Regions from separate parts of the Homo sapiens genome. Here all the other regions are linked to region 2. Evidence: fine-mapped expression QTL. A gene starts in region 2. Each other region holds a variant in brackets. All regions are shown on one strand. Distances are from middle to middle. Region 1 holds the start of LOC124901251 (a long non-coding RNA gene). Region 2 holds the start of PPP1R3G (protein phosphatase 1 regulatory subunit 3G). Region 3 overlaps LYRM4-AS1 (LYRM4 antisense RNA 1). Region 4 overlaps LYRM4 (LYR motif containing 4).

Evidence for each region. PIP is the estimated chance that this variant, and not a neighbour inherited with it, causes the effect.
Region 1: its variant is the best candidate, but not a certain one, in a credible set for the expression of PPP1R3G in atrial appendage (GTEx, PIP 0.79).
Region 3: its variant is the best candidate, but not a certain one, in a credible set for the expression of PPP1R3G in whole blood (TwinsUK, PIP 0.60).
Region 4: its variant is the best candidate, but not a certain one, in a credible set for the expression of PPP1R3G in left ventricle (GTEx, PIP 0.50).

The regions. Positions count from the first base shown.
Region 1 is chr6:5,859,865-5,867,652 of GRCh38, forward strand. LOC124901251 (a long non-coding RNA gene) reads left to right here and starts at 3,103. Exons shown (of 2, transcript XR_007059425.1): 1 at 3,103-3,507. The variant C/A (reference allele first, on the strand shown) is at 3,275.
Region 2 is chr6:5,081,285-5,089,072 of GRCh38, forward strand. It overlaps PPP1R3G (protein phosphatase 1 regulatory subunit 3G), which reads left to right and starts at 4,057. Exons shown (of 1, transcript NM_001145115.3): 1 at 4,057-7,788. The coding sequence starts at 4,202. The coding sequence ends at 5,278. All of the region lies in intron 3 of LYRM4-AS1 (LYRM4 antisense RNA 1), which reads left to right. It also overlaps a transcript of LYRM4 not described here. RefSeq lists silencers at 3,039-3,108, 3,139-3,418, 3,829-4,008, 4,259-4,358, 4,499-4,548 and 1 more and an enhancer at 4,339-5,028.
Region 3 is chr6:5,060,699-5,068,486 of GRCh38, forward strand. The region is part of intron 2 of LYRM4-AS1 (LYRM4 antisense RNA 1); the gene reads left to right. It also overlaps a transcript of LYRM4 not described here and the pseudogene TFB2MP1. Among named protein-coding and RNA genes, the nearest start is that of PPP1R3G, 21 kb to the right of the region's middle. RefSeq lists an enhancer at 2,643-3,144. The variant T/A (reference allele first, on the strand shown) is at 2,961.
Region 4 is chr6:5,103,903-5,111,690 of GRCh38, forward strand. It overlaps LYRM4 (LYR motif containing 4), which reads right to left. Exons shown (of 3, transcript NM_020408.6): 3 at 4,517-5,589. The coding sequence ends at 5,521. The region is part of intron 3 of LYRM4-AS1 (LYRM4 antisense RNA 1); the gene reads left to right. Among named protein-coding and RNA genes, the nearest start is that of PPP1R3G, 22 kb to the left of the region's middle. The variant G/T (reference allele first, on the strand shown) is at 4,349.

The sequences.
Region 1 (7,788 bases), 780 kb after region 2:
ATGAAGGAAGTTAAAGAAGATACTGATAAGTGGAAAGATATCCATATTGACTGAAATAATTAATATTGCTAAAATGTCTAAACTACCCAAACTGATTTACAGATGCAAAGCAATCCCTATCAAAATCCCAATGATGTCCTTTACAGAAATAGAAAAATCTACCCTAAAATTCATATGCGGCCAGGTACAGTGTCTCTCACCTATAATTCCAGCATTTTGGGAGGCCAAGGTGGGTGGATCACTTGAGGTCAGGAGTTCAAGACCAGCCTGGCAAACATGGTAAAACCCCACCTCTACTAAAAAGACAAAAGTTAGCTGGGCATGGTGGCAGGTGCCCGTAATCGCAACTACTCGGGAGGCTGGGGCAGGAGAATCACTTGAACCTGGGAGGCAGAGGTTACTGTGAGCTGAGATTGCACCACTGCACTCCAGCCTGGGTGACAGAGCAAGACTCTGTCTCAAAAAAAAGAAAAAAAAATCATATGGAACTACAAAAGACCCAGACTAGCCAAAGCAATCTTGAGCAAAAAGAACAAAGCTGGAGGCATTACCGGCTCTGATTTCAAAATATATTACAAAGTTATACTAACCAAAATAACATGTACTATCATAAAAACAGACACATAGGACAACGGAAAAGAACAGAAAGCCCAGAAATAAGTCACACATGTGTGGTCAACAAGTCTTTAACAAAAGTGCCAAGAATACACAACGGGGAAAAGACAGTCTCTTCAATAAGTGGTGTTGAGAAAACTGGATACCCCCATGCAAGAAAACGAAACTGTATCTTTATTTTATACCATACACAAAGATCAACTCAAAGAGACTGAAACATAGCCCTGAAACTCTAAAACTCCCAGAAGAAAACATAGGTGAAAAGCTTCATGACATTGGTCTTGGCAATGATGGTTTGGATATGAAACCAAAAGCACAAAGGAACAAGTGAGACTACATCAAACTAAAAGTTTCTGCACAGCAAAAGAAACAATCAACAACAACAAAAAGCAACCTACAGAATGGGAGAAAATATTTGCAAGCCATACATCTGATAAGGGGTTAATATCCACAATATATGAGCAACTCATACAACTCAACAGAAAAAAACGAAACTTGATTAAAAAGCAGAGAGAGGAGTTGAGTAGACATTGTTCCCAAGAAGACATACAAATGACTAACGGGTATATGAAAAGATGTTCAACATCACTAACCATCAGGGAAGTGATAATCAAAACCACTATGAGATGTCACTTCACGCCTGTTAGGATGGCTATTATCAGAATGACAAGAGATAACAAATGTTGGTGAGGATGTGGAGCAAATAAAACCCTTGTCCACGATCGATGGGAATGTAAATTGGTACAGGCATCATGGAAAACAATAGGGAAGTTTCTCAAAAAAGGAAAAATAGAACCACCATGTGATCAGCAATCCCATTGTGAGGTCTATATCCAAAGAAAATGAAATCAGTATCTTAAAGATATATCTGTTCTTTGCAGCATTATTCACCAAGATACAGCCAAGATACAGAAATAACCTAAATGTCCATTGACAGATGAATGGATAAAATGTTGTATATACACATGCAATGAAATATTATTCAGCCTTTAAAAAGAAGGACATTCTGTTATTTGTGACAACATAAACCTGAAATCCAAAAATGTCAAATCATGGAAACAGAGAGTAGAATAGTGGTTACTGGAGGCTGAAGGGGAGGGATATGGGAAGATGTTGGTCAAAGGGTATGAGCGAGGTCTGTTATGTAAGGTAAATAAGGTCTGGACAACTACATACAGCAATGTGACTACAGTAACAGTATTGTAGACTTGAAATTTGCTGAGAAGGCAGCTCTTAAGTGTTCTCACCACATCAAAAAATGATAACGATGTGAGGTGATAAACGCATTAATTTGCTTGATTGTGGTGGACAGTTCACAATGTATACATATATTGAATCATTGAGTTGTACGCCTTAAATATATAAAATTTTTAATTGTCAACTATACCTCAGTGATGTTGGGGAAAAAGAGAATAGTGTGACATGCATTATATAATGCCCCCCAAATACGTCCACATCTGATTCCGAGACCTCTGAAGATCTTACGTTATTTGGCAAGGAGGAATTAGGTTGCAGGTGGGTTTAAGGTTGCTAATCAGCTGACTTTGAGATAGGAAGATAATCCTGGATTATCTGGGGGCCCAATGACATCACAAGGGTCCTCACAAGTGGAAGAAGGGGCAGGCAGGAGGGTCAGAGAAGACAAGGCAACAGACTCAGAGAGGCAGGCTGACATGATGGGAGAAGGATTCTGCAGGCCATTGCTGGCTTGGAGGATGGACGAAGGGGATTGCCAAAGATAAACAAAGCTGGACACTGATTAAAATGATCAGGACAGATTTAAATCAGTAAAAACAATTGCTGATTTAACAGGGAGAGGGGTCTGTGGTGAACTGCACTCAACTTTGTACAGAAGTGAACCAGCGTGTTGAAGGGAGAATGCGAGAGTGGGAGGGGAGAAGCTGGAAAAAGCCAAAAACCAGATTCTTCCCCAGAGCCCCTAGAAAGGAACATGGCCCTGCTGGCACTCGGAGTTTAGCTCAGCGAGACTCATTTGGACTTCTGACCTGTAGAATCCTAAGAGAAAAAACATATGTTGTTTTAAGACACGGCGTTCGTGACAATTTGTTGCAGTGACAATAGGAAACTAATACAAATAGCCAGAACTTAGATAAGCAGAGAATCCAGACCTCTGGTGTGAAGAGAGGACCATGGGGAGGAGATAAATCTCACTACAACAAAGTGTTTGATTTGGGAAGAAAGAATCGCTAACACACATGGAGCTCTCCTTGTTCCGGCGGGGTTTAAGCACTCAGGCATGCATTTTCAAGAATGCTCTGAGGTTGGTACTATTATTATCCCCATTTGCAGGGGAGCAGACTGAGGCACAGAGAGGTTAAATAAGTTGTCTAAAATCACAGTGGTGGTACGTGCTGAGGTAGTAAGAGACAATACAGAGGGTGTGACTGCAGTGCTAAGGCGGTGAACTCCTGAGAGCTGCTGCGGCCCCTTTCCCAGCCTCAAAATGGTATGAGAGGGGTGGTGGGCCCTGCTCCTCTCACCGGGCAATGGCTCACTCAGCCTGGTTGGCTGCCTCTCTAAGCCTGGGGTCTGTCTCTGTGAGGAGCAGAGGGCAGGCCTGGGGAGCACATCCCCCATGTCCTTGCCATGTTGATAGTAAACCAAAGTGAGTAACTGCCATTCTTCCCAAACCCTGAAC[C/A]TGGGCTGTCCTTCTGTCTGGCTGAGCTCATTACCAGCTGGGAGGTGAGGCCCTGGCTTTCAGACCCTGACCTTGACCACGACCTTTCACTGCCTCTCTGCAGCCAGGTGTGGGGAGTAGAGAAGGCCCCTGTGATGAAGAGCCTCCAGTGCCAGGACCAATATGGCAGATGTTAGGAACAGTGGACTGACCTGCTTTCCAATGCTTGCTGAAAAGTCACCTGGCAGCAAGAGGTAGGAAGAATCAGTGGAGGGGTTTACGTGAATATTCACAGCGACATTATTCATAATAGCCATAAGGCAGGAGAAACTCAAATGTCCCTCAATGGGTGAATGGGTCTAAAAGGTTTCTTTTTGAGGTGATATGAAAATTGACTGTGAAGATGGTTGCACATAACTGTAAATATAATAAAATCCATTGAATTATATACTTTAGTGGGGTGAATTGTATGGTATGTAAATTATATCTCAATGAAGCTGTCAAAAAGGTTAGTTGGGGAGAAGCTCCAAGCCAGCAGAGTGCTCTGTGCCACCCCAAGATGTGACATCTGGGGATGCAAAGACTGGAACTGTCAGCCAAGGCTAAGAGCCAGGCTGCAAGCTGGAACCAGGTTGTCCCAGAAACAGTGGACAGACACGCAGGGTGGGGTCCCTCAAAGAGCCTCAGAATCAAGCTGGGCACAGATTCAAACCTGGCAGGCCTCTCACCCTAGGTTTTCTCATTCAAAAAGTGAGAGGTCAGAGGTCAGCGTTCTTCGACCTCAGTACACCAAAGACCTTCAAGCTCTCAGGGACTCTGCTCTGGACCTCAGGATGAAGGGTGAGGGGTAGAAATAATAAGTGGGAGGTTAGGACAGGGGTGAGGAGAGAGGACTGAAGTCACACATGCTCATGCTGTGGGAAGAAATGGGAAGAGGCAGGTGTCCATTGGTTGGGGCCGCCAGACAAGCCTTACTCTGAGTCCTCCCACCGGTGGAAAGAGGCTCAAGACAGAAACTGGTGGTGTGGGAAGAGCATCTCAAGCTGGAAAGGAGCAGTTCCTTGCCACACCTGTAGATGCTTGACAGGTAGAAGGCTTCTGCCACTGTGAGGTCAGGAGGAAGGGGTGGGGGAGAATCAAAAGCAAGGGATGCATTTCATTCATTGCATTCCTGCACGCATGCAGTAAGAAAATATTTTTTAAGTTCAGGGCACCTTGAAGAGAGAGGTGAACAAAGAGAACAAAGTCCACATCCTCAAAGAGCTTTTGTTTTAGAGCTGTGCTGTCCGAGATGGCGGCCACTAGCACGTGTAGCTACCAAGCCCTTGAAATGTGGCCAGTCTGAATGAGAGGTAAACAAAGGGCAAAATACACATCAATTTCAAAATTTAGACCAAAAAATGTGAAGTATCTCATTAATGATTTTTCATATTGATTACATGTTGAAATAATAGTATTCGGGATATCATGGTGATATGGTTTGGCTCTCTGTCCCCACCTAAATCTCATCTAGAATTGTAATCCCCACATGTTGAGGGAGGGAACCGATGGAAGGTGATTGGATCATGGGGGCAGTTTCCCCCATGCTATTCTCGTGATAATGAGGGAGTTCTCATGAGATCTGATGGTTTAAAAGTGGCATTTTCCCCTGCACTCTATTGCCTGCCACCATGTAAGATGTGCCTTGCTTCCCCTTCACCTTCTGCCATGATTGTAAGTTTCCTGAGGCTTCCCCAGCCATGCAGAACTGTGAGTCAATTAAATCTTTTTTCTTTATAAGTTACCCAGTCCAGGTAGTAACTTTATAGCAGCGTGAAAATGGACCAATATACACGATTAAGTGAAATAAATTCTTAAAATTAATTTTACCTGTTTCTTTATGCCCTTTTAAATGTGGCTACCATAAAATGTAAAATTACAGATGTGGCTCAAATTATATTTCTATTGAATAGCATTGCTCTAGTAGGAGAAACAGACAATAAATAAGAAATAAACAGACATAACAATATCAGTAATGTTTGATAGAATGGTCTTTCTAGGGAGATGGTGTCCGTGGAGAGGCTTTGGAGGAGCAGCAGGCAGTGTGGCTGGGGATGGTGAGCATGGTAGGTGGCTGGAGGGGATGTAGGCAGAACTGATCTTTGAGCAGCCTTGAAGACTGTTGTGCCTACGAATTTACAGGCCTTGGCAATGGTGACTGACTGGACACAGGAAAAAAGTGAGAGGGCAGGGACAGAAGTCAACATGAGGTTCTGAGCCAGTGTGACTGGCGAGCTGCTGGTTTGCCTAGATCGGGATGGAGATAGGACCTGTGATGAATTCTGAACTCTTGTCTCATCCTGCTAAGTCTGAGTTGGCTCGAGGAAATTCAAATGGACATGTACAGTTTCCACTGGAGATAGTCCTGGAGCTTAGCAGCAAGGCTGGGGATGAAAACACACAGTTTAAAGTTATCTTAGAGGAGACCCTTGAGCCCACACACACGGATGTGTTACTGAGGGTAATGAGAGTGGGGAAGGAAATGACAGTTGGTCAGATGTAGCTCGAGTCCTGGCTCTGCCACTTCCCACCTTCCTGTACTTCCTCATCTGTGTGATGAATTTAAAATGGTCACGAACCATTTTGATGTTGTTTTTATTCCCTCATCTTGAATGTGGGCTGGCCCTGTGACTACCCCCAGCCACTGGAGCACAGAGGAAATGATGCTGCTCTGGTTCCAGGCTTAGACCTAAGAGGAGTGACAGCATCTGCCTCATTCTTCTGGAGCCCTGAGTTACTAAGTAAGAACTTCTACCCTAAGTCTGCCATGTTGTGAGGAAGCCCACAGGTGAAGAGGCTGGGCAGAGAAATACAGAAGGTTACTTAAATAGCCAAGACATTCCAGAGGAGGCTCCAGACACCATGGGAGAGACAGAAGTTATTCTTCCTCCATCCTGTCCACATTCCTAGCCCACAAAACGATGAGGTATAAGAATAATCAATTGTTGTCTTAAGGTACTAAGTTTTGTAGAAGTTTGTTATTCAGCAATAGATAAATGGAATAGTATGTAAAATGGGATAATAATTTATATCTTATTTGATTGCTAGAAGGAGGATGTAAAATGCCAAGTACAGTTTCTGGCACTGGATAGGTACTAAATCAATACTCTTTTTCTTTCTCTTTGAAAGGCTTATGCTATAAAGTCAAAATCTGTGAGGTTCAGCCTTGTGAAATGACATCAAATAAGCTGAAGTCCTATTTCATGTCTATTTTTTTAAACATATGGAAATGACAACTGACCATAGGCTATCTTCCCTATGCTAGATTGCCTATTCTCCCCTCAGTTACACTGGTCTCAAGGCATGTTCTCCTGGTCACTCTTTCCAGAATCTGATCTAATTGAAAATTCTCCGTTTGAGTGAGTTGCCCTAGAAGGGCCGCCTTAGGTGTGGTCAGTGCAGTGCTGGTCAGAAGTGTGTCTCCTCACTTTGTTGGGACACACCACCCCACTCACCATGCTGGCAGAACAGACCAATACTGTAGGCTTCTAGGATTCTGCTTCTATTATTCAGTGTGTTTACTATCACTTTCAGTTTCATGATATCACAGACTCGATCAATTATACTGTTACTCTTCTTATCCAAATCATTTATCAAAATGTCGGACAAGTCTGCAGTGAGGGTAGAGCCAATAGAGACCTCACTATCTGTTGACATTTGTTCATTAATAGGCCCTGTTGGGTATGTTTGTTCAACCAGTTATGTGTGAATCACCCAGCACTTCTGTCATCCAGCCCACATTTTTTCCCATCTGTTTATGGGAGTATTCAGTTTCACTCTTTAGCATATACGATCTGCTTTTGTTCCACTGCAATAGCTGGTGTTGTTTGCCTAACTGTGATAGGTGCCACTGCAGGCAGGAGCCACGTCCTGTTTTTCTTAGATGACCTCTATGTTGAACATGTAGGAAGTGCTCAGCGAGCTCTTGAATGAGCTCTTTCAACCATATCATTCCATCAGGATGCCTGCTTTCTTACATGTGTCTGTTCTGACCCTGCATCTTAGCATACATCTAAGGAAACTTACATCTAAAGAAGGAAATTCTACAATATGTGACAACACGAATGACTCTTGAGGACATAGCACATTTCTGTTTATAATTATCTTATACGTAGGATATGTGAAAAAATACTCAATTTGATTTAAATTCCTGTTTTAAGAGAATCAACTACATTTAACCTAGGATGAATCCTTAACAGTTGGATTATGGAAAATTATACAAATCAGGAAGAGCAGCTAAGAAAGGTTTGCCTTAGGCTCCTCCAGGAGAGAGCTGCACTATAAAGATGTAAGCTAAGATGCAGCTCCAAAAAGTGAAGCTGCTTACTAACAATGAGCTGGAGCTCACTGAAGATGAGTAGATGCTGGCTGTGTGGGAATACAAAGAACAATCACTTGCGAGGATGTGGAGGAACTGGAACCCTTCTGCACTGTCAGTGGGCATGTAAAATGGTGTAGCTGCTGTGGAAAATGGTATCGTCAAAAAAAATACATAG
Region 2 (7,788 bases):
CTTGGAAAAGCAGTCCATCCCCACCATCCATTGTGCCAGAGTGGAGGAGTGGTGTGGGAGCCAGAGATCACCCATTGTTTCTGCACCTTTCAGGAGGCAAGGGGGAGGACCCGAAGTCCCCATGGGCTGCAAGGTGGGTGCACACCGTTTCTGCTTCTGAAGTCCTTCCTTGGCTTCTGAGAACAACCCTCTTCCATTCCCTCCAACCCTTCTGGCTGTTCATTCTCTATCCCTGTTGCAGGCTCATCCTCCTCCTCCTGACCTGGGAACATCAGGGCTGCTCAAAGCTCAGTCCTGGGCCCTCTTCCCTTCTCAGCTTTAGACCTCCTGTAGTATAATAAAAATAGACATTTGGTCTTTGTCCTTGGTTCCTGAAATAGAAAGGCTAAAACTCTTGGAATTTTCTGATAGAACATTTGTTATTACTTACATTGTTAGTGTTATTTTGTTGTAACATAATTGTTTTTTATAAAGAGTCCCTTTTGATCACACCTGAATTTATGCTAATGAGATGACTGAGAGTGGGCTCTCTAGACAGCCTCAAGATGGGCTGGGTACCAGAAACACCAAGTGATTAGAGGACTGGAACTTTTAACTCCACCCACTGACCTCCAGAAAGGGGCAGGGGCTGCAGACTGAGCAAGGCTGGTGGGGCTTCTGGGTGGGGAGCATGTGGAGACCCTGGAGGCTGGTGCACCCAGAGGGGCCCTGGAAGTCCCATGCCCATCGCACACTCTGTCTTCTATCTCTTCCCTTTGCCAGTTCCTGAGTTTTCTTCTTTATAATAAACTGGTGAACTCAAGCAAAGTGTTTTCCTGAGTTCCGTGAGTCATATGGAAGCTGGGGATGGGTTGTGGGAACACTAATTTGTAGCTGGAGGGGCAGAAATGCAGGCAGCCTGGGCACCCCGTTTGCAAGTGGCTTCTGAAGTGGGGGCCGTCTTGTGGGACTGAGCCTCTAAGCTGTGGAGACAGACACTAGCTCCAGGTAGATAATGTCAGAATTGAATTATTGGACACCCTGTTGGAGAACTGGTGTTAGACACCACTTGGTGTTGGTAAGAACCAGAGAAGCTCAACCTGGTCAAAACAGAATTCATGATCTTGCCCTCCCTCTATTCCTCTTCTGGGGGTCCCTGCCCCAGTGACTGCTACTGTCTACCCAACAGCTCAAGTCCAAATCCTAAGGCACCTCCCTCCCCCTGCCTCCCTGCACCTACCCCCACTTGGGGCCATAAGTGTGCTACATTGATTTTCACTCCTAAATAGCGCTCAGATTTGTCCACCCCACAACCATCATCTCTTAAGTATGATCACCCTTCACCACAACAATGGCAACAGCCTCCTATGGGGCTCACTCACATTGTTTCTGTCCCCAGTAATTTGCTCTTTGTCCTGTATCCAGAATGATCTTTTCAAAATTTAAATCTGGTTAGTCACATTCATGACTCAAAACCTTTTGACGGCCTCTCATTGCTCAAGGTTGAGTGGCTGTCCCCTCCCATCCTCAGCTCCGCCAGTTCCTCTGTGCTCTCTGCCCTCAGGCCACCCTGGCCTTCTTCCAGTCCAGCCCCCTGACACTCCCTCCAACAGAGCCTCTGCGTGGCCCAGCACGTTCTTCCTTGCAGTCCGAGCTGTTCCTTCCACCTCACCTTCCTCACAGGCCTCCTGACCAGGTCAGATACCACCTTCTCAGCATTGGCCACAGGGGCTGAGTTTGTATAGTGTTGGCCCCTCCCACGCACTGAGAGCTCCCCGGGGGTGGGACCTCTAGCATTTCCACCGCACAGAGGAGGGTGGGCCGGGGCTGGGACCAGTGCACCTGCATGACCCTGAGAGTGATGCCTCCTTAAATTCTATGCCCCAGCACCTCCCTCACCTCCTTCTCTGTCCTGGAGTGAGCATGTGCCCCCGTGAGGGTTGTAGCCCAAAGGGTCGCCACCACCTCAAAATCTCTTTGAAGTCTTATTTTATCTTTAAAATAGCTTGTGAATTTTGTATTTAACTCCATAATGTAGCAATGTGTATTTAAATGTAAAAGCAATGTCCTTCCCGAAATCAGAGTTGCTGCAGGAAGACAGGCCGTGTGCGCCTGGGGCCTCTTGGAGATGCCATGCCCAAGTCAAGACACAGTCATGGAATTCCACACTGGGCATAAAATGACCAGCAAGAGTCCAGCAAGGGGACCGGCAGGGCCCCCTTTACAGGACATCACTCCCAGCCCAGGCTTAGTAGTGATGGGGGAAATGTTTCCTCTAAGCTGCCTGGCTTCAAATCCCATGAAAGCCACCCTGTGGGGCCTTGGCGATGAGAAATCTTTCTGCAGTGTTGTGTCCTATATGTAGGCAGGAATGATGTGATTCCTATTTCATGGACAGGACATCCTGTAGGTGCTCAGTCAATCAATGTAAGCTCTTAACACGCTCCTCACCCACCATCTCTTTTGCCTGCCCTCTGCCAACATGGCTAAAACCCTGGCCCCTTTCAGTTCTGCCAAACCATGACATGTTTTAGTTATGAAGCCCCAATTAATTACGTTTCTTAATTAGTGGTTCTGTTTCTAGAATCCCCAACTTTCTATATAAGTAACTGAATACACATCCACATAGGTTTAAATACGGTCCCCAGAGCCCAGCATCAGCATCCCCTTGTTAGAAATACTTCCAGGCCCCAGCCCAAGCCCACTGAGTCACAAACGCTAGGGAGCTGGGAGCAGTGGGGGGCGCCTGTAATCCCAGCTACCTTAGAGGCTGAGGCGGGAGGACTGCTTGAGGCCGGGAATTTGAGACCAACCTGGGCAGCATAGCAAGACCCCTATCTCGAAAAAGTTAGAAAGAAGGAAACTCTGGGAGTGGGGCCCTGTGATGTGACAACGGGCCCCCGAGTGATGTCCGTGCATGCTGAAGTAGAATCACTGACTTAGATGGCCCTCAGGGTGGCCTTAAAACCAAAACAAGAAAAACACCACTTTTAGACGTTCCCCCAATCCCTAGGTACCACGACGCGCTTCCCCACCCCTCCCCGGCCTCAGGTTCGGGCCTTGGCCCCTGGCAAGGCCGGAGCAGCAGGGCGGTGACAGCGCAGTCCGGCGCGGGCCACGCCCCCACTCCCGGTGGGCGGGGAGGGTGCTTGGGGCGCTGGCGTCCGGTTGCGGTGGGAGGTGGTGCGTGCCGCGTGGGCGCCGGCCCCACGGGGCCCCCTCTCCGCCCTCCCTGCGGGATCCCGGGGCGCGGACTCGCGGGCGCGTCGGGCGGGACAGGGGGAGGGGCGGGACGTGCTCCCGGGCCTGGCGCGAATGGCCTCCGGCCGCTCTCGGCTGCGGGCCATGGCCGCTCCCCGGCGCGTCCCCACACGGTCCCCGCCCCAGTCTGGCCGCAGCCCACCCCGCGCCGCCACTGGGCAGATGGGGGCGGCGGCTCCTGCCTCCCGGCTTTCGGAAGAGCAGAGCGGAGCGCGCCTGACCGAGTCAGGCTTCCGAGTGGGATTGGAACCCGGGGCGCCCTGAAGTTTGGGGAAAGCAGGAGCAGAAGGGAAGGGATGCGCTCCCCGCTCTCCGGCGGCGCGGAATGGGCCTCCTTCCAGCCTCTGCGTAGGCAAGATTTCCCCAGTTGCGCGCTGCACCGGGGACTCCCCAGCCCGTGAGGCAGCCAAGAGGAGAGCGCTCAGTGACCCTCTGGGGGCAGAGCCGTCAGGCCAAGTTCATGGGCAGGAAGACTTTGTGCACGTGGGGGTCTCTGAAGGTTGAGCGCGAGCTCTGCACCCCCACTTCGAGGCACTCAAGAAGCGGAACAGACGCGAGCCCCGCCGGGGGTGCGGGTGAGGGCTGCAGGGAGCCCGCGAACGACAGAAAGTCGCCCCCCGCATTCCACCGGAGCACTCGGGAACACGGCTTCCAGGTGTCCCAGCGGCCGCGCCTCCCCGCCCCCGGCCCTCCCCCGTCGCGGGCAGGTTCAACCGGGAGGCGGCGTGGCCCCGGAGCCGGCCCCAGGCCCGCATCCTCCTCCCACTTCGCCCTGGGCAGCCGCAGCTAAAAGCCGGAGGCTCCAAAGTGGAACTACGTTGTCTTGTCGAGCCTGGGGCGACTCGCCTCGGGGAGGGCGAGCCTGAACTGCAGCCCTGCGCTCCTTCCACGGCCCGAGGAGTTAGTTAAGTCTCCAGAGGGGCCCGGTTCGGCCCGAGCAAGTCCAGGGGCGAACGGCGTCATGGAGCCCATAGGGGCGCGGCTAAGTTTGGAGGCGCCGGGACCAGCGCCCTTCCGAGAGGCCCCGCCGGCCGAGGAGCTGCCCGCCCCGGTGGTCCCCTGTGTGCAGGGTGGCGGCGACGGCGGTGGCGCTTCGGAGACCCCGAGTCCTGACGCTCAGCTAGGGGATAGGCCCCTGTCCCCGAAGGAAGAGGCCGCCCCCCAGGAGCAGGAGGAGCTGCTGGAATGCCGCCGCCGCTGCCGCGCGCGCTCCTTTTCCTTGCCCGCCGACCCCATCTTGCAGGCGGCCAAGTTCCTGCAGCAGCAGCAGCAACAGGCGGTGGCACTGGGCGGCGAGGGGGCGGAGGACGCACAGCTCGGCCCGGGCGGCTGCTGCGCCAAGTGCAAGAAGCGGGTGCAGTTCGCGGACACGCTGGGGCTAAGCCTGGCCAGCGTGAAGCACTTCAGCGAGGCGGAGGAGCCGCAGGTGCCGCCCGCCGTGCTCTCGCGCCTCCGAAGCTTCCCTATGCGTGCCGAGGACCTGGAGCAGCTCGGGGGGCTGCTGGCCGCGGCGGCAGTGGCCGCGCCCCTTTCAGCGCCGCCTTCCCGGCTCCGGCCGCTCTTCCAGCTCCCGGGGCCGAGCGCCGCGGCCGAGCGTCTGCAGCGGCAGCGCGTGTGCCTGGAGCGCGTGCAGTGCTCGACGGCCTCGGGCGCTGAGGTGAAGGGCTCCGGCCGGGTGCTCAGCTGCCCTGGGCCCAGGGCCGTGACCGTGCGCTACACCTTTACCGAGTGGCGCTCCTTCCTGGACGTGCCGGCTGAGCTGCAGCCCGAGCCGCTGGAGCCACAGCAGCCAGAGGCACCGTCTGGGGCCTCCGAGCCAGGGTCCGGGGATGCCAAGAAAGAGCCAGGCGCCGAGTGCTTCCACTTCTCGCTGTGCCTGCCCCCGGGCCTGCAGCCTGAGGACGAAGAGGACGCCGACGAGCGCGGCGTCGCGGTCCACTTCGCTGTCTGCTACCGCTGCGCGCAGGGCGAGTACTGGGACAACAACGCGGGCGCCAACTACACGCTGCGCTACGCGCGCCCTGCGGACGCGCTCTGAGCCTGGAGAGTTTCGAAGAGCCGTGGGGCGGGGTTGATTAGCACGTGGAGCTCGGGCTGCCGCCTCAAGGAACTTGCTGGGACGCTTTGCTGAGCGTGGCGAGTCTGGCGTGAGGGGCGCGTGGAGGGAAAGGAGGGAGACTTTGAACCGTCGACTCGCACCCCCGCAGACAAGTGAGCGAGCTTAGAGAGCCCGGGCAATGCTCCGAAAGCCTCTGACCTCAGTCTTCTCGTCCGTTTGACCTTCCTACAAGGCCTCTAGAATTCCCAGCCTGCGTCAGAATAGGAAGAAACTTCCAAGGCCCGGAGCAGCTGCCTCCAAGAAAAAGGCTCCCAACTCCCGGGCATGGTTCTAAGGCCTTGGGATTGGTTTTTAACTCTAAATATCATATTGTAGCCCTTGCAGTTTGCTGGAGACCCCTAGGGAAAGAACAAAGCGTCCTGCCACGGTGCACCAGAGGAAGGTGCCACGGACTGTGGGTGCACGCGTGGGACCTTTACACCCCAACCTATTTCTCAGAGAAAACCCTTCGGGGCTGGGCCAGGCCACCCTTTTCTTTTGACTGAGATGTGGGTAATGTGTGCCCAGACTTGACGTTGTTTATTGTGCGACATTGTGTACAAATGTCCTTTATAAAAGTAAAGGCCACTCGCACCCCCTTTTACGCTGTACTCTGAATTTTGGCTTTCGTGAGTTTGGGGAGGCATTGGCAGTCGGCCGATCTTTGTCAGCTGATGATGTGCGCACTTTAACAATCCTTAAACAACAGCCTACAAATTCCTCCCCTTCGTTCCTTCCTCTCTACTGCGAAAGGGCCCAAACTTCCCATGTGCTTTAAAATGTTCTGTAGAAAGTGTTCCGTCCCCCTCCGAATTAAGACGTTTGGTGAATTGAAATGCCAGTCCTCGGGCAGGCCCTGGCTGTGATCTGCGAGAGCCGGGCACGCACGCCCCGGCGCCCTTTGTGTAGGCAGAGCACACTGTTAGGAGACTTGCCGGGCCATTAGCAGTCAGAGAAGCTGGGCCCTTTTAGTCGCTGGACTGCCAGCGCAGGGGATGGGGGATGGGAAAGTGGCTTTCTGTTCCTCTCAGAGCCACAGTGGGGAGTGGTGACTTGATGGAAGAGGAGGCATGCCCAGCGAGTCAGTGCTGCGCAGACGCAGATGGCCACCTCTGCAGGCCCGTTGGGTGGGGTATGGACGGCCTTGGTCGCTGTGCTGGCTGTGGATGCCAGGATGATGTGGCCCTCTGTGCATGGGTGGGCAGGAGGGCATCCCGAGTAAGGTCTGTCGCCCCTTGACTCTGCCTCAGTGATTTCCCTTTTTTTAAGTCTTCCCATTTTCCAGCACATGGCGAGTACAGTCAGTCGTTTTAGGGATGGTAGTCTCTAAGGAGGGACAGTTTCACTGTTGCTTGATAGAACAGGGCTGGGCATACGTACATTTGGCCCATGGGCCAAATTTGGCACACAGCTTATTCTTGTAGGGCCTGTGACCTAAGAATAGTTTTTACATTTTTATTTTTAATTTAATTTTCTTATTATTATTTTTCGAGACGGAGTTTCACTCTTGTCGCCCAGGCTGGAGTGCAATGTGCGATCTTGGCTCATTGCAACCTCCGCCTCCCAGGTTCAAGCGATTCTCCTGCCTCAGCCTCCAGAGTAGTTGGGAGTACAGGCATCTGCCACCACACCTGGCTAATTTTTGTATTTTTGGTAGAGACAGGGTTTCACCATGTTGGCCAGGCTAGTCTTGAACTCCTGACCTCAGGTGATCCACCCGCCTTGGCCTCCCAAAGTGCTAGGATTATAGGCGTGAGCCACCTCACCTGGCCTTACATTTTTAAATTGTTGAAAAAAATTCAAAAGAAAGTACTATTTGGTGGCACGTGAGAATTATATAAAATATATATTTCAGTGTTCACAAATCAGGTTTTACTGGAACACAGCCGTGCACACTCATTTCTGTCTTCTCTGTGCTGCTTCCATGCTACCGCAGCAGAGTGGAGTAGACACAGCAGAGACCAGATGGCAAAGTGTAAAATATTTACTATCTGGCCCTTTTACAAAAGGCTGGCCAACCCCTGCTCTAGGGAAGTAGTGTTTTTTAAACACAATATGCTGACAATTATAGTTAATAAAGCATTTAGACTTTAGTGAGCTTTTGCCACTTGAAATAAACCCCCTTTGGGTAAAGGTAAAGCTTTATATGACTCTCAGTAATCTTGTTTAGAATAAACACGAAAATGTGAAAAGTGCGGTTATCATTGTGTCAGGCAGGGGAATCTACCTGTTGCCTTCTTTCACCTAAAAAAATAGTAACACATCAGTGCAACTGAAACATAGCACCCGTTTGAATTGGCTTCAAACTACAAAGCTGCCAGATATTTCTCTGTGCTTCAAAATGTGGCATCTTACACAATGGAAGTATTTAGTTTGAACTTTGGGTTGGAGATATCCCTTTGACTATGGCAGTGTTTCCCAAAGTAAACTGATCATAGGAAAAAAATAAT
Region 3 (7,788 bases), 21 kb before region 2:
TGTATTTTTAGTAGACACGGAGTTTCACTGTGTTGCCCAGGCTGGTCTCGAACTCCTGACCTCAGATGATCCACCTGCGTCAGCCTCCCAAAGTGCTAGGATTACAGGCGTGAGCCACCGTGCCCAGCTATATTTTTCAATTTATCTGGAATTTATTTTGAGAATTAGAATTCAGAGAGATTCTGCCCACCCCATAGCCAACTAGTTATACCAGTGGTATTTATTAAATAATTCATATTTTCTCGACCAATTTTGAATGCCACCTTTATCCTATACTGTTCTGTGTTCTTAAATTTAGGGGACAGCCAGTCAGGTGCAGCCTCAAGAGGGGACACAGGAGAGGCTCAGAAACAGTTTATAGTCCTCTCAGGTCCTTCACACAGGAGGCTGGCCATGCAGGTCACTTAATTAATTAAAAAGACAGTTAATTAATTGTATTTTTTGGTGAGGGATTATTTTACTTTTAACTTCTTAGTGTTTAATTTTTAATCCTTCATTTCTTCTATTTTTCTGATTTTAATTTATTTATCAGCTTTAGATTTTTGTCTCTTTTAACCCAAACCTGATTTACTAGAAGTTGTCTATTTTCATGCACAAACTGTCACACCACGTGCAGAGGCCTGCCTGTCAGTCAATAGTTCAGTTTTGGCTGAACTGCCACCTTTGTTTCACAATAGCAAAACGATGATTTCACAATTGTTTGAATATCTTATTGCATTTTGCCCTTATTTTATACAAGATAGTGAACAATTGTAAAATAAAAAAGGTTAATCCTATCTATGTCATAAATAATGAGAGAAATGCAGAAATATTAGTTGCCTCCCAAGCTTTTCACTTACCAGGCTTACGCAGATCAAATGTGTGTTCAATAGCAAACGCTGAAGGTGGCTAGGGGCTATGGGGTTGGGATCTGAATCTAACTACCTGCATGGTGCAAGAACTAAAACCTGAAAAACGAACACAAAACCGATCCATGACCATTGAAATCCCCAGAGACTCTGGCAACAGGAAGTCTTGTACTGTTCTATTCCGCAGCCACCCAGAGCTCACGGGAGTCCCATAGAAAACTCACAAAAATCAGTTCACACACAATGAATTACAAAGCACTGGAAGAAATGAACACCATGAATAAGACGCAAGACCCAGAGATGGAATATTTATGCCATAATTGAGAATGTTATCACCTTTGTAATTCTCTAGCAATGGAGGTCTTTTATATGTGTGCATTGCTCAACTTTTTTATAATTAACTCTGGTACTTTCGTACCACCTCCACAATAGCGGGGTGTTTAATACTGATACTTTGCCATTTTCTTCCTTCTATTCTCCTGGCTTAAAATACTATTATTTTCATTTCTTTATTTCTTCTTCCCCTTCCTTCTTCTTTTTTTTTTTTTTTTTTTTTGAGATAGGGTCTCGCTCTGTTGCCCAGGCTAGTGTGCAGTGGTGCGATAATAGCTCACTGCAGCCTCAAACTCCTAGGCTCAAGTGATCCTACCATTTCAGTCTCCCAAGTAGCTAGGACTACATGTGCACACCAACACCCCAGCTAATTAATATATATTAATTATATATTTATATGTTGATAATATTTATAATACATATTAATTAATATATTTATAACATATATTAACATATATATATATGTTTAGAGACAGGGTTCACTGTGTTGCCCAGGCTGGTCTCGAACTCCTGGCATCAAGTGATCCTCCCACCTCAGCCTCCCAAAGTGCTGAGAGCCACCATGTCTGGCCTTATTTTCATTTCTTAATAATATCATTTCCCCTGAATTTCATGACCTATCTGCATTTTTCTTCCACATCATTGTTTTATTTAATTCACCCTTCCCTTTTAATAAAGGCCTAAGACAAATGTGGCCAAAGGGATGGTATCACCGAGGCAGCATGGCAGGAAGGATTAGAAGCCTCCCTTGCTCAGAGCTGCAGGTGAGCTGCCAGCTGGCTCTTCTACTGAAAACACATAACACATCCTGTTTGAGGACAGTTTTCCACCTCCCCAGGATCCAGGCGACTCTCAGGACATAATTTACTTCTCTGTGCAAGTGGTCCATGCATTTCTGGCTCTGTCAGGTGACTTCTGGAATTAGAACCTCATGGGAGAGGCTGCACACTTTAGAATCTGTGATCTCTGATGAATGCAACCATTGGATTTGGAGCAAATCAAAGCCTGCCGCAAGCCAGGAGGGGAAGGGAAGGAGGAGGTCACACTGGCAAGGGCCCTTGGAAGGACTCATGTGCCGCTGACTATCCTGTGGTCAAGTGGACCGTGGTGGAGGGTGGTGTGGGCATCCATTATCGAACCACTGGGTCTGCTCGTTCACAAAGCAGCTTCCCATGAGTCATTTCCATCTCTGCACCTCCTTCTCAACAGGCACAAGAGGAGTCACCTGTGGACATTTTCCCTCAATACAAAGTCTTCCTGAATAGGATTTTTTTTGAATGGGGCAAACTGGGCAGCAAGCTTTGATTTTTCTTTTTTAGGAAGGCACTGAAACTGGCACAGACGGGACGGCCACTTCATCCACCGACTAAAGCCTTGGTCCTCATGAAGCATTCTGTGCACCGAGACCTGGCTGACCCTGGGCTTTTCGGATGCACTGTAGCCCTCAGGGAGGACCTGGTGCTCTTCTGGGGAGATTGGAGTCCCTGGAAGGCACGTTAGCCAACCGCCCATTTCCAGCCCCACAAGCCTTTCCCGACCCCCATCCTACCTGGCCCCTCCCCCAGGCCTATCCTCCTGGTCTCCTTCCCTTGCTTTGGTTTTTTCACATCAGTTGTCGCCATGGGACGCTACTTACACCCTTGTGTGGTTGTTTATTCTGACACAATCTGAACCCCACTGGAAGAAGCTCCCGATCCCTGGAACCCAGGCTTGTTCACCTATGTCTCCCCAGCACTGAGCTTGGCCTGGAGTGATGTTTGTTCAGTGAGTGAGAGGCAC[T/A]GCTCCTGGTGTGTGTGGCTTCCTCCCCCAACAGATCACATGTGGGTGCCACCGTGGACCACAGTTGGGGAGCCATCTCCCGGGAGCAGACTCAGCCTTCATCCCTGCCCAGCCTGGTCCCACCCAGCCCCTCTTCAGGCTGCCCCGGTTCCCCAGACCCTGGACAGTCCTGTTCATCTCTCTGCTCACCCCAGCATGTCGGGAACCTGCCCCAGAAAGTGGCATGCGCTGGTCCCAGGAACTGTCTGGGCACACTAGGCCTCTGGGCGAAGGGGTTGACTTGCCAGGCCAGGGGCAGTGGCTCCGGTGGGAGCTGCCTGTCTTGTGGCCTAAAGCCATGCAGTGAGGTTCACGGCTGAGTTCTTCCACATCTGTTGGGTCCCCAGAGCCTCTTAGCACTTCCTGGGAGCCCATTCTCAACTTGTGTTTGGCTTTTGGGAGCCTGTTTCTAACAATACACGCTTGAAAGGGACCCAGGTTTTAGAATGTTCTTTATTCCAAAGTCAAGGTTTTTGGAATTTTATCCCATCTGCTGGCTGAAAAAAAAAGGTGGGAGCAGAAATAAGGGTGACAAATGAATCAGCCTTCCCACCTAGCCCGGAAAAGTTCTATCCCAGCAAGCCCTGAACGGCAAACGAGACGTGATATCTATGTTTGTCTATTTGTCTTTAGTCATCTTTTAAATTTTATTTTATTTTAAAAATAATTAATATGTTTTATTTTTAGAGCAGTTTTAGGTTTACAGAGAAATTGAGTGGAAGGTACAGCTTTCCCATACACCCCTCAGCAACCCAAGCTCACTGTTTGCTCTGTTAACAATGAATATGAATGTAATGTATTTGTTACAGCTGATGAGACATTGATACATTCTTTTGTATCATATATTTTTTAAATTCAATTAACTTTTTGCTTAAAATTTTTTTTTATAGAGACGAGGGTCTCACTATATTGGTCAGATTGGTCTTGAACTCTTGGCCTCAAGGCAATCCTCTCGCCTCAGCCTCCCAAAGTGCTAGGACTACAAGGGCGAACCATTGTGGCTAGCCTTATTATTATTTTTAGTTGAAACACAATTGTACATATTTATGGGGTACAGTGTGGTATTTCAATTCATGTACACAAAGTGTAGTGATCAAATCAGGGGAATTAAGCATGTCCATCACCTAAAACATTCATCGTTTCTTTGTGTTGGGAACATTAAAATGTGCTCTTCTAGCTGGATACGTTATTTTAAACTAAAGTCCATAGTTTACATCAAGGCTTAGTCTCGGTGTTGCACATCCTACGGGTTTTAATAATGTTACGTATCCACCATTACAGTGTCATACAGAATAGTTTCACTGCCCTAAAACCTCTGTGCTCTGCCTACTCATCCCTCTCTACCCTAAACCATGGCAACCACTGCTCTTCCTAACTCCAAGTTTTGCCTTATCCAGAATGTCATAGTTAGAATCATACAGTATATAGCCTTTCCAGGCTTCTTTCACTTAAGTCATATGCACTTCAGTGTTCTCCATGTCTTTTTGTGGCTTGACAGTGTGTTTCTTTTTACTGCTGAATAATATTCCATTGTCTAGATATACTACAGTTTACTTATGCATTCATTACTGAAGGACATCTTCGTTGCTTCCAAGCTTTGGCTTTACATTTATATATTTATTTTTATTTAAAATATTTTAATTTCTAAAAAAGTTTAAATCATATTAAAATTTAAACAATTTCATTCTGTAGTACTTGACAATACATTTCAACAAACTGAAATGCAAAACAAATCAGTAAATCAGTTTTGTTTACTTTCTAAGCTTAATAATGTACAGACTCTTGCTCCTCAAGAAGATGCAAAAATCAGCAACAGTGAAAGTGAAATATTTAAATAGGAATCTGAAACAAAAGGAATTCAATCTGATCAAATCCACAATTAATTGAAGTTTTCACTTTATTCAATTGTGAATAAAATAGCAGCCACTGTTTCATCCAATATGCCAATGATATCAACTTCAGGAGAAATGATCTACGTGTCATGTGCAAAACAAGAACAGTTATCTTCTGCTGAAAGGATGTGAGCTTTCAAATTTGGTTTTCATGTCATGGTTTCCAAATAAATAAACTGCTCCACCAAAAACGACAGTCTAGTTGCTACATATTTACCAGGGTTTCATCATATAGCCATTTATAAGCACAATCTTTGGAACACTATAGTTTCAAAAAGTTTTTTGAAGTCTTGAGGGTACATGTTAGTTATTTTCTCTTCTTCCTTTTTTCCTATTTGCATCAATATATCCATTGCACCAAGTGGAGTCAGTGAACTTAAGTGGTCTATTAGATTGGCACTGCACCTCCCAAAACAGTGCTTTCACATGTGAAAAAATATATTACAGTTAATAGGTGTTAAGTTCTCGGTAAATAAATTTCCATGAGGAGTCATTCGAGTAAGATACAGATTTTGTTGTAATAGCTCCAATAATTCCCTACACTTTGGGTTTTCCAGCCGCCCATTTTGGGTGTATACATCAAATGACGACCAAGCCTCCATGTGCAGAACCTTAATCTCACAAGCTACTTGCCAGATAACACTTCATACATGATACAAGTCTGGATTTCGGGGATCTGCCGTTAGTTTCTGGAATTCTTTTTTACCAATAAACATATTTAGTTCTATTCGTCCAAATTTATATCTAGAAGTACAGGAATACGTCATATGCAGGTTTCCAAAGTGGCCCTTTTTTCACCTCTACTTGAGAACATTCTAGTTACTTTTAAAGGGCTGCCTGCTGTCCAAGGAACTGCTTCTATTCCCAAATTCTGAAAGAGCCCTTGAGAAGCCATAGCGGGTGGTTTTATTACTCCACCACTTCTAGGATCTATTTTAAAGAAGTCACAGTGAATCACTTGTAGTTTTCCATCCAGATTTTTTCCTAAGGACTCCAAATGTGGAATAAAAGTTTTGTCACTTTCAAGGGCAACCACTTTGGCACCAATTTCAAGTAATGCCTGAGTCAGGATTCCAGGACCTGGACTGCACTGCAGCAATAGGTGTGGAGGTCTATTTTGTTTTCTCCATACGATTTGCGCCAGGGTCTCAGCCAATCTCCGATTGGTTACGTAACGCTTAAAGTCTAAGATGGAGTTTAACACCCTCCTTGGTGAGTTCCTGAAATCCGGATCCGGCCACAGCTGCGGAGAGGAGTCAGACAGGCCACGGCGGTTCCTCGCCGGCAAGTGCTTTCGCATCGCCGCTCCAGACCCTAAAATGCAAAAGCGACCAGCGCCCCCCAAGGCGGAGAGCCTCAGCCGAGGAGGAAATCCGGCCACTGGGATCCACATGTCTTTGTCTCTCAGGCCCGCTCCAAGGATTACCGGGGGTTGCTACTGCAGTGAACCCCTAAATTTATTTTTAATTATATCATTGAAACATACATATATGCACTTGGCGGAAAAATTAAAGTGATACAGACAAAAGTATTAATTTCTTTGCTACTACTCCACCTCTTCCAAGTTCACCACATTCCCCATGTGCATCTTTCTAGATCCTTCCTAAGCATTTATAGATATTTATGTACACAGAAAACATTAGTTATCTATTGCTGTGTAACAGATGACCTCAAACTTAGTATGTCGTTAGCAACAGTTAACATTTACAATTGTGCAGCTTTTGAGGGTTAGGGAATTGGGGAATGTTTTATTTGGGTGGTTCTGGCTCAGTTTCTCATGAGGTTGCAGTGAGTATGTCAGCCAGGGCTACAGCCATCAGAGTCTTAAATCCGCTTCCAAGGAGGTTAACTCACATGGCTGGCAAATTGATGCTGGTTGGCTCTGAAGGGCTGCTTGAGTGTTCTCACAACATGGCGGCCAGCTTCCTCAAAGCAAGGGAGAGCTGGGGGAGTGCTCAGTGTCTTTTGTGACTCAGCCTTGGAAGTTGTACATTACCACTTCTGCAGCCTCCTGTTGGTTACATGGGCTATGGGAAGGGTGTGAACACCAGGAGGCAAGGCTTGGCGACTGTTTTATAAAGACTGACTACCATGCAGGGAAACTAATGGATTTTTTTGTAGTTTTGGTGGAAAACTTTACATTTGGGAAAAGGAAAAGTTACAAATCTTAATCGTTTTTAAGCGTTACGATACACACAAAGTAAGCAGTATTAAAACAAATCCCATGCCAGTTTGTAGCAAACAATCTGTGTTGAGGAATTTTAGCCATCATAATAGTGAAAAAAAGATTACGTATATAGTGTGATGATTTCAACTTTGCAAGAACTCATTTGTTAAGGCTTGGATATGAGAAGATTGCAGGAATAAATTAACTTTCACATACTTAAAATCTCCTCACAAGAACACCCTACATTTATCACAGTGCTAAATGTGCTATGGAAAGCACATGCTTATGGAAAACAGGCTCTAAGTTTTATTTTTCCTTTAAAAAGGCAACCTTCTTGCCCACACTCTGATTGATTTTAGGCTTGGGCTCATTCATTTTGACCAGGGTGGTTGGGCTTCTCTCTGTTTACAAACAGGTGTTTGCCTTACAATTCTGTTGTCTATTCACCGTCACACTGTATGAGGTCAAAGTAGAAGTCAGTTTGGAAATGCGACATCAACCATCGTCCGCTGGGGAGCAGAGCAAAGGTAAACATGGTGAAAGGTCCTGCAGCAGCCAGCCAGACACAGTCAGGACTTGCCTGGGATCATAAAGGCCTCCTGCCAGCACGCCGGCCCCTCACCCCACACAGAGCCATGGGCCACTGTTTACTGTCCTGACTTCACAGTGCCATGACTATTGATCATGGGTGAGCGCAAACATAAGAGTACAACAGTGTGATGGTCCGGAA
Region 4 (7,788 bases), 23 kb after region 2:
TGGGATTACAGGTGTGAGCCACCACACCTGGAGGAGATATTCTTTAATCTAGAAAGCAAATACTAGTTTATATGAAGTACTTAGCAAAAAAAAAAAAAAAAGCTAATTTTCTACAAATGTATATTTTCTGTATACTTGTTGATATTTTACTGTGCTTTTATTTTCAGTCTTAGAAACAGGCAGCCAATATATAGAGCAACCTTCCTCAAACTTTTAATGTTAATCTCATGACCAAAGTAGAGAATCTCCCCCCACCAGCCCTCCTCTTCCAATCGAACTTACACACAAAGAGCTTTGCCTAAAGCAGGAAGTTATTTGCTCTACAGAGTTACGGGTAAAATCTTTATAAGGGTCTTTCGAGTTGTTTTATCCCAGTTATTTTTTTTTTTTTAGACAGGGTATCACTCTGTCATCCAGGCTGGAGTGCAGTGGTGCGATCATGGCTCACTGCAACCTCCGCCTTCCAGGCTCAAGTGATCCTCCCACCTCAGGCTCCAGAGTAGCTAGGACAACAGTTGCATGCCACCACACCCAGCTAATTTTTGTATTTTCTGTATAGACAGGGTTTCACTATGTTGCCCAGGCTGGTCTCGAACTCCTGAGCTCAAGTGATCTGCCCACTTCGGCCTCTCAAAGTGCTGAGATTACCAGGTATGAGCCACCACACCCAACTCCAGTGATTTTTAAAAATTATTAAATGGATAAACAATTTCCTGGGAAGAAAAGAGCTACCCTTTCTCTACTTTGAAGAAAAGATAAATTCATCGAGTCTGGGCTTTCTGTTTGAAGTTGAGGTTGTTCGAAGTCAGCAGTGGGGACAAAATTCCAGACAGTGGCTGCTCCTGTCTGGTCTCAGCCAGAGCCCCTTCTTAGTTCCTCAGGCCCTGCTCCTGAGACTCCTCCTAGACTCCCTGCAGCCCTCAGGCCTGGTCTCCTCATCCAATCAATCACCAAGTTCTGCTGACTCGACTTTTTCTTTTCTTTCTGGTTGGCCAGCCCTTCCATCTGTAGGACACGTGATGACTGTTTCGACTGTTTCTCCAGGACTTGTTCTCTAAAGGGAGTGACCAGTATTCTGAAGATATTTGTGGAAATGTCCCCATACAGGAGACCTGCAGTTTTGGCCGTTTGTCTGCCTACTCTTTGGTTTGCTATGTGGCCCTGAGAAAGTAATACATTAATACATTAATACAGAGATGCTCTCTGTATTAGTTTGCTGTTACTTCATAATAATCTACCTCCAAACTCAGTGACTAATGTAACAGTTAATTATTTAGCACATGTCTGAGGGGTGGCTGAATATGACTGACCTAAGCTAGACCAGGCTAGGGGACTCTGTGGACTTTCTCGCGCATCGGCAGGTGGGCTGGGGAGCTCGGGCTGTGCTCAGCTGGGGCAGCTCTGCTCCAGGTTTCCTGTCCTCCTTCAATGGCGGCCCACCCCAGCCAGTTCTCAGGGTGATGCTGACTCTGCTTCTGTTCAGCTGTTGCCTCTTGGTGAAGTCACCATCGCTTGCCTGGAATGCCACACCCAATCCCCCACTCCTCCGAAAAGCTGGTCTCCCTGCATCTCTCCCAGTGTATCCCCTCAAAAGCAGACAATGTGACCTTTTAAAAAATACAAACTTCGGTCGGGGGCGGTGGCTCACGCCTGTAATCCCAGCACTTTGGGAGGCCGAGGCAGGCGGATCATCTGGGGTCAGGAGTTCAAGAGCAGCCTGGCCAACATGGCGAAATCCTGTGTCTACTAAAAAATATAAAACTTAGCTGGGCATGGTGGCGTGCGCCTGTAGTCCCAGCTACTCAGGAGGCTGAGGCAGGAGAATTGCTTGAACCCGGGAGGCAGAGGTTGTAGTGAGCTGAGATTATGCCACTGCACTCCAGCCTGGGCAACAGAGCGAGACTCTGTCTCAAAAAAACAAAACAAAACAAAACAAAAACCTCATCTTGCCTAAAAACTCCCGAGTTGCTCACCATCCTTAGGCTGAGGCTCCAAGGCCGTCCACGATGTGGAAAGAGCCCTCTTCCTTGGCTGCCACCATCCCAGACTCCCTTTAGTTCTTTGCATGGAACTACCCTCTCCCCCAATTAAGGGCTTTGCATGTGCTGTTCCTCCTGCCTAGAGAGCTCCTCTCCCCACCTTCACACAGCCAATCCTCATCATTAATTTGCACGTGTAAATATCCCCTGGGGAGCCCTTCCCTGGCCCGTCCCATCGGCTCTGGCAGCACTCATATTTCCCTCTTTGTAACATTCATAAGACTTGTCATTTTCTTCTCAGATTTCCCTGCTAGACACAGGCTTTATGAAGGTACGTCTGTCTTGTTCACTGGTTGCTCCCTGGCACCTGGCACCTGGCACTAGGTGGCCTTAGTCAATACTGAGTGAATAAATGAATGAGTGAAAGGGGTTTAGGGGAAAGGCCCTGACTCTGTACGTGATCTGCAGATGTTCAGGCTCTTTGTTTTAACACCTGAAGATTTGAGGGTTGGACTAGGTGAGCTCTGATGTTTGTCATCTTTGTAGGCTTCACCCTCTGCCTGTCCCTTTTGCTCCTGGATGATGGTGGGTTGTATGGTGGGGCTTGAGATTAACGGGAGAGGCTGTGGATGAAGGGAGTTAAAGGTCACTGCTACTTAGTTAGCAGCAGGACGGAGTATACCTAAAGCAATCTAGCCAATTCTTTCAGTTCCAAAATCCAGATTCCAACAGCCATCAGAACAACACAGCCCTGTACTTGGCCGTGCAAGATCTCCCAGCTATTATGTCATGACAGCCAGCCCAGCCCAGAGCTGTCTCTGAAAGTCTAGGATATAGCCTTGCTCGGCCAATGAGTTCTGCCTGGGAAGTTAACTAATGATAGTAGTTCTCATTTGCTCAATATTAGTGCTGCAAAGTGATCTCCAGACCCCAGCCCGGATCCTATCTTCAAAGCAGGCACAAGTTCTAGAGAGTTCTGTGAGGCTGGCCATGATGGATGTTGGAGTTGCCCACATTCCCCTCAGTTGGTGCATAGTCAAGGAGGTGGAATACTTCCCTAGAGAAACACCAGGGGTCACCCCCATGGGAATGCCACTTTATTCGAAGCTCTAGCATCAATATTGGGTCATCTCAGTTGGGGAGTACCCAGTGCCAGGCTCTGCCTGCCAGATATACACCTGAAAGGTGGAGGACCAAGGCCTGTTTGTGGCGTTTCCTGCCACAGAATTCGGATTTGTATCTTTCTGCAGATTCCAAAGGCATAGTTAATTTTACAAAATTAAGTCTGCATTAGCAAGGCTTTGGGCATGTTCAAACCCATTCATGCAGTTTAATGAACACAAAAGCAACCTGCTGTTACAGCCTGCAGCCCACGTTAAGTTTGGGTGGACTGCCTCATTGCGTAAAACCTGGGGGAGTGGGAGAAGTCTCCTCTGGAGCTGTTATCTTGCCGGCAATTTGATGCCTTCAGCACGGAGGTTCAAATCTGGACTTCGGTTCCAAGTAGCAGTTGCTTAAATTAAGTATAAATCAGCAGTGCCGTGCGTTAGTAGCGTGGTTGGATGCATTCACTGCTGAGTGACCACGAACTCCACTGCACTGATGCAAGGTGGAAAACCTGAGCCAGAGCCACACACAGGGCTGGGCTGGGCGGCTCTGCCCCGTGACAGTCAGCTGAAGGGAGTGATTATACTTGCCACATCACCTCCGTTCACTGTCCACCGAACAGCTCTCCCCCAATTAGGGCTTTGCATATGCTCTAACACTGCAGCTCCCAGGCAGGAACTGGTTAGAGGGTAAGAGATCTGGGACTTGCTAAGAGCTTCATTATTTTCACAGATGCTCAGGACTTTATCCTGAAATTGGCAGGGGGTGGTGGTTCATGCCTGTAATACCAGCACTTTGGGGGGCCGAGGAGTTCAAGACCAGCCTGGCCAACATAGTGAAACCCCGTCTCTATTAAAAATACAAAAAATTAGCTGGGCGTGGTGGCAGGCCCCTGTAATCCCAGCTACTCGGGAGGCTGAGGCAGGAGAATGGCTTGAACCCAGGAGGTGGAGGTTGCAGTGAGCCAAGATCGCACCGCTGCACTCCAGCCTGGGTGACAGAGCGAGACTCCATCTCAAAAAAAAAGACTTTATCCTGAAATCAAAAGTTGTACTGCCAAATAGAATGGCTACACGTTACATCTATTTGAACGCATCATTGCAGCAAATCTATGCTCTCTAAAAGCGACTGGAAGACATGAGTTCTCATATGAGGGTGAGAAGAACACGGGCTCAGACAGTGCGTACTCACTCCCATGACCGTCGGAGTTAAAATGAGGGGGTGACAGTGCTGCAGCTATTCCAGGACCGGTGCTATTTATA[G/T]GAGCCTGTTCCAAACCTTAACCCACAGATACCAAATCCACTGAGCACTGTATGCAAAGGGAAACAAGAAACCGCTCTGCCAGGTCTGGTCCCTCGTAAACTCCCCAGATGACAAGCAAGTTATTTAATATGTTCTTTCTATGTTTGGAATGAATCTGTTTCCAAGAATAAAAGCATACAAACAATATCTTTATTACCTGTAATATACTTAAAGAGCAGGGGTCCCCAGTTGGTTAAACATTGAAAACAGTGGGAGAGCTTCAGAATAGAGAAAAATGACTGTGCCTCACCCCTCACTTACTGAGTCAGAATCTGCAGAGAGGGAAGTGCTGAGAGATGTCTTTTTAAAAAGCTCTCCAACTCTCCAGGTGCTTCTGTCCACCAGCCAGATTTGGGCACCGGTGCTGCCCAGCATGCCCCAGGCTTCAGGGTATGGGAGTCGCCCTGGGCTTGGGTCAGGCTGGGGCTCTCTCATTCACCAGGTGTGGGGAGGGGCTTGAGCCTGCATTTCCAGCAAATTCCCAGGTGGGGCTGAGGTTGCTGATCTGCAGTGCTCCATCTCTGGGTGTGTACCTACACACCCGTCACCTTTGTTGTACTGGGCTCAGGTATAAGTTGCAGGGTGCACCGTGTATCCCCGTAGCCCTGCCCTACTCCATGCTGCCCCCAGTCTCAAGTGGTGCTTGAACTTGCCTTCACCAAGGCAGTTCTCGTCTCAGAGTTGAACCCTCCCTGAGGGCCCCCAACAGCCCTCTCCAGGCCTTGTATCAGTAGGAAATGAAAATGCATTAATTGGGAGGGGTTTATCTGGGGTCAAAGGCTCAGGGAGATCATTCTTTTTATTGCCAAGGACCAAGAAACAAAGTGTAGAAATGCTATACACAATGGTCATGAGCTACAAGGTAGGAATGGGGTGCAGGGGAGACGTGGTAACACACAGCACTATTCTGAACGAACTCCAGCTCTCCATTCTAACACTTGAACCAAGGAAAGACAGCAGTCCTTTTTCACTAAGCCTGCAACAGAATGCAAATGTGACTTGGTTTATCAGCTCCCACAGGACAGGCAGCGCAAAAGGCTATTGTAAGCTGGTTTTGGGAGCCCCCATCTCAAACAGAGAGTGGATGCTGAAGGTGGTCCCTGGCCGCCACTGGTGGCTGGTCCCCGGCTTGCTAGGTCCTGGGCATGTCTCGATTCTCAATGATCAGCTTGTCAGTTGAATACAGTTGGCCAATGTGGACCTGAAGGCAAAGAAAGGACACAGGTCAGGAACCGTGGCCCTCTAGCCCCTGGGAAAGGCCAGAAGGAACATTTCCTAACATTTCTAATACAAACGTCGGCCATCCCAGGGCTGCTCCCTTCCGGCAACTGCACTGCGGGGCAAAGCCGGCCACTAGAGCACCATCCAACCCCCGTTTCCCTCACTGTGAGAAGTTACAGAGATCCACACACCCATTCCTCCCCTCTGAAACAGCACAGGAGGCTGCAGCCTGGGACTCGGGGCTGTGCTGAGCTGGGTGACGCCTGCCTGCTGGTGGCAGAGCTGTCAGATGTGTGCCCAGTACCTCCTCTCCTAAGAGGGCTTCCTTCCCTTAGAACTGATTCTCGCATAGGGAAGGGGTTTTAGAACAGTGCAGAAATGGGCGCCGTCTATGCTGGGGTAGGAAAAGCGCTGCATTCAGGGCAATGCAGACACCTGTCCGTGGCCCATCCCGGGTGGGGTCGAGGGCAGTTGTCTGAGTGCCTGCACCTCCTGCCTTCTATCTTTCCTGCCCCCTTCTTTTTAAAGTGTCCTTTTTATTAAGTGTCTTAATGCCCAATGTTTCCACTGTCCCAGGTGGATGCTGGAGCCATCCTCTGGGGCTAGAGCAGGTCTTTCCTCTGCAACAAAGGGTCTTGCCACAGTTTTTCTGTAAAGCATTTCCTGAGTGATACATTTTTAAGAACAAGTGGAATGGGTGAAGGAAGGGCTGATCATTAGCAACTCTATCTGGATTTCAGACCAGTTGGTCACTATCTATGGGTAATTCGGGGTGAGTAACTGCTGTTTAAGCAAACAGAGCAGCCAGGGGTCAACATCCTCATGGTTTTCCTCCCCGATCTTAGTGCTCTATTTCGAAGTGAAGGCCCCGGACAGAAGGCGATCATGTCATTACTACAGCATGTGTTAAAGAGCAGTGCTCTGTCACCAAGGACCGCCGCGCCGTCCATCTGAGGTGTCCTGTTTTCCATGCCATTTGCTCGGTCTTCAGTCTGCCCTTGCACAGAGGTATCTTGAAGGTCCGTGGCATGGATAATAACTAAGTGTTGCGGTGCAAGAGAAAGCGAAGGAAGAGGCGAGAGCAGCACGTCATCTAAGAAGAACGAGAAGTAGACAGTGGAGATATGGGGGATGGGGGGATCTTGCAGGTATTTTTAAATGCAAGTGAATGTCCTAATTAAAAACCAAAAGAGGTAGGTAGGAGTTATGGGAAGGGGGTGTAGAGAATGAGTGCTCCTAACAAGTCACAGTGATGAGCTTTGCTACTGTGTCTTCAGTCGTCCTTTCCTCTCATTAATATAGAGAAGACTTTGGACGCAAGTGGATGGGGAGGGTCTGGGGTGCTGCGTTTCTCGCAACCTGCAGGTAATGCTGATGCTGCTGGTCCACGGGCCACACTTTAGGTGGCAAGGTCGGAAATCATCTTGAGGGCTGTGAGGAGCCGCACTGGTTTTCTCAGGGGCTACGGTACAGTCACGATGAATGCAGCACAGGGACTTTCTGGCCTTCCCTTCTGGACAACCTGAAATAGCTGCTGGGTGAGCTGAAGCCATCTATACCCTACTACAGAGAAGGGGAGGATTGGCATTGTCCTCCACCCTGAATAGTACATGGTTTTGTTTTCATATATTAACCTCAACAGATAGATGAACCCACTATCAAATGATATTGAGAAAAGAAAGGCTAGAATACCAATGATCCTTAAAAAAAAGGGAACCATTACTTTTTGGATAATTAAAACTAGGCTAATACAAACAGTTTTGTATAACAGCTGGGATGGTTCAGCTACCTGGGAGCTTGTTCTGTATTTAATTGATCTCAGGGGATTCACCAGGAACCTGTCCTAGAAGTGTCCACAATCGGACATTCACGAGTACTTGACAGAGTTTACCGTCATCTTCTCAAGGCTTTAGTAGCAGGCAGGAGTTATGGGACGGCATAAGAAGAAACCTGTTCAAAAATGCAATGGGCTGGCTTGGGAAGCTGTGAGTTCTCTGTCCCCGTGAGGAGCAGAAAGTGAGGATGGAGAAGGAAGGTATATGCTAGACCAGGGCTGAACCAGATGGATTCCTTCCAACTCTCAGCTTCTGTGATTACAGGCACTGTCCACGGCTCCGGGATCCATCTGGGACGCCTCTAATGACAGCCGCGTGGTCTCTGAATGACCCCGTGTTGATCC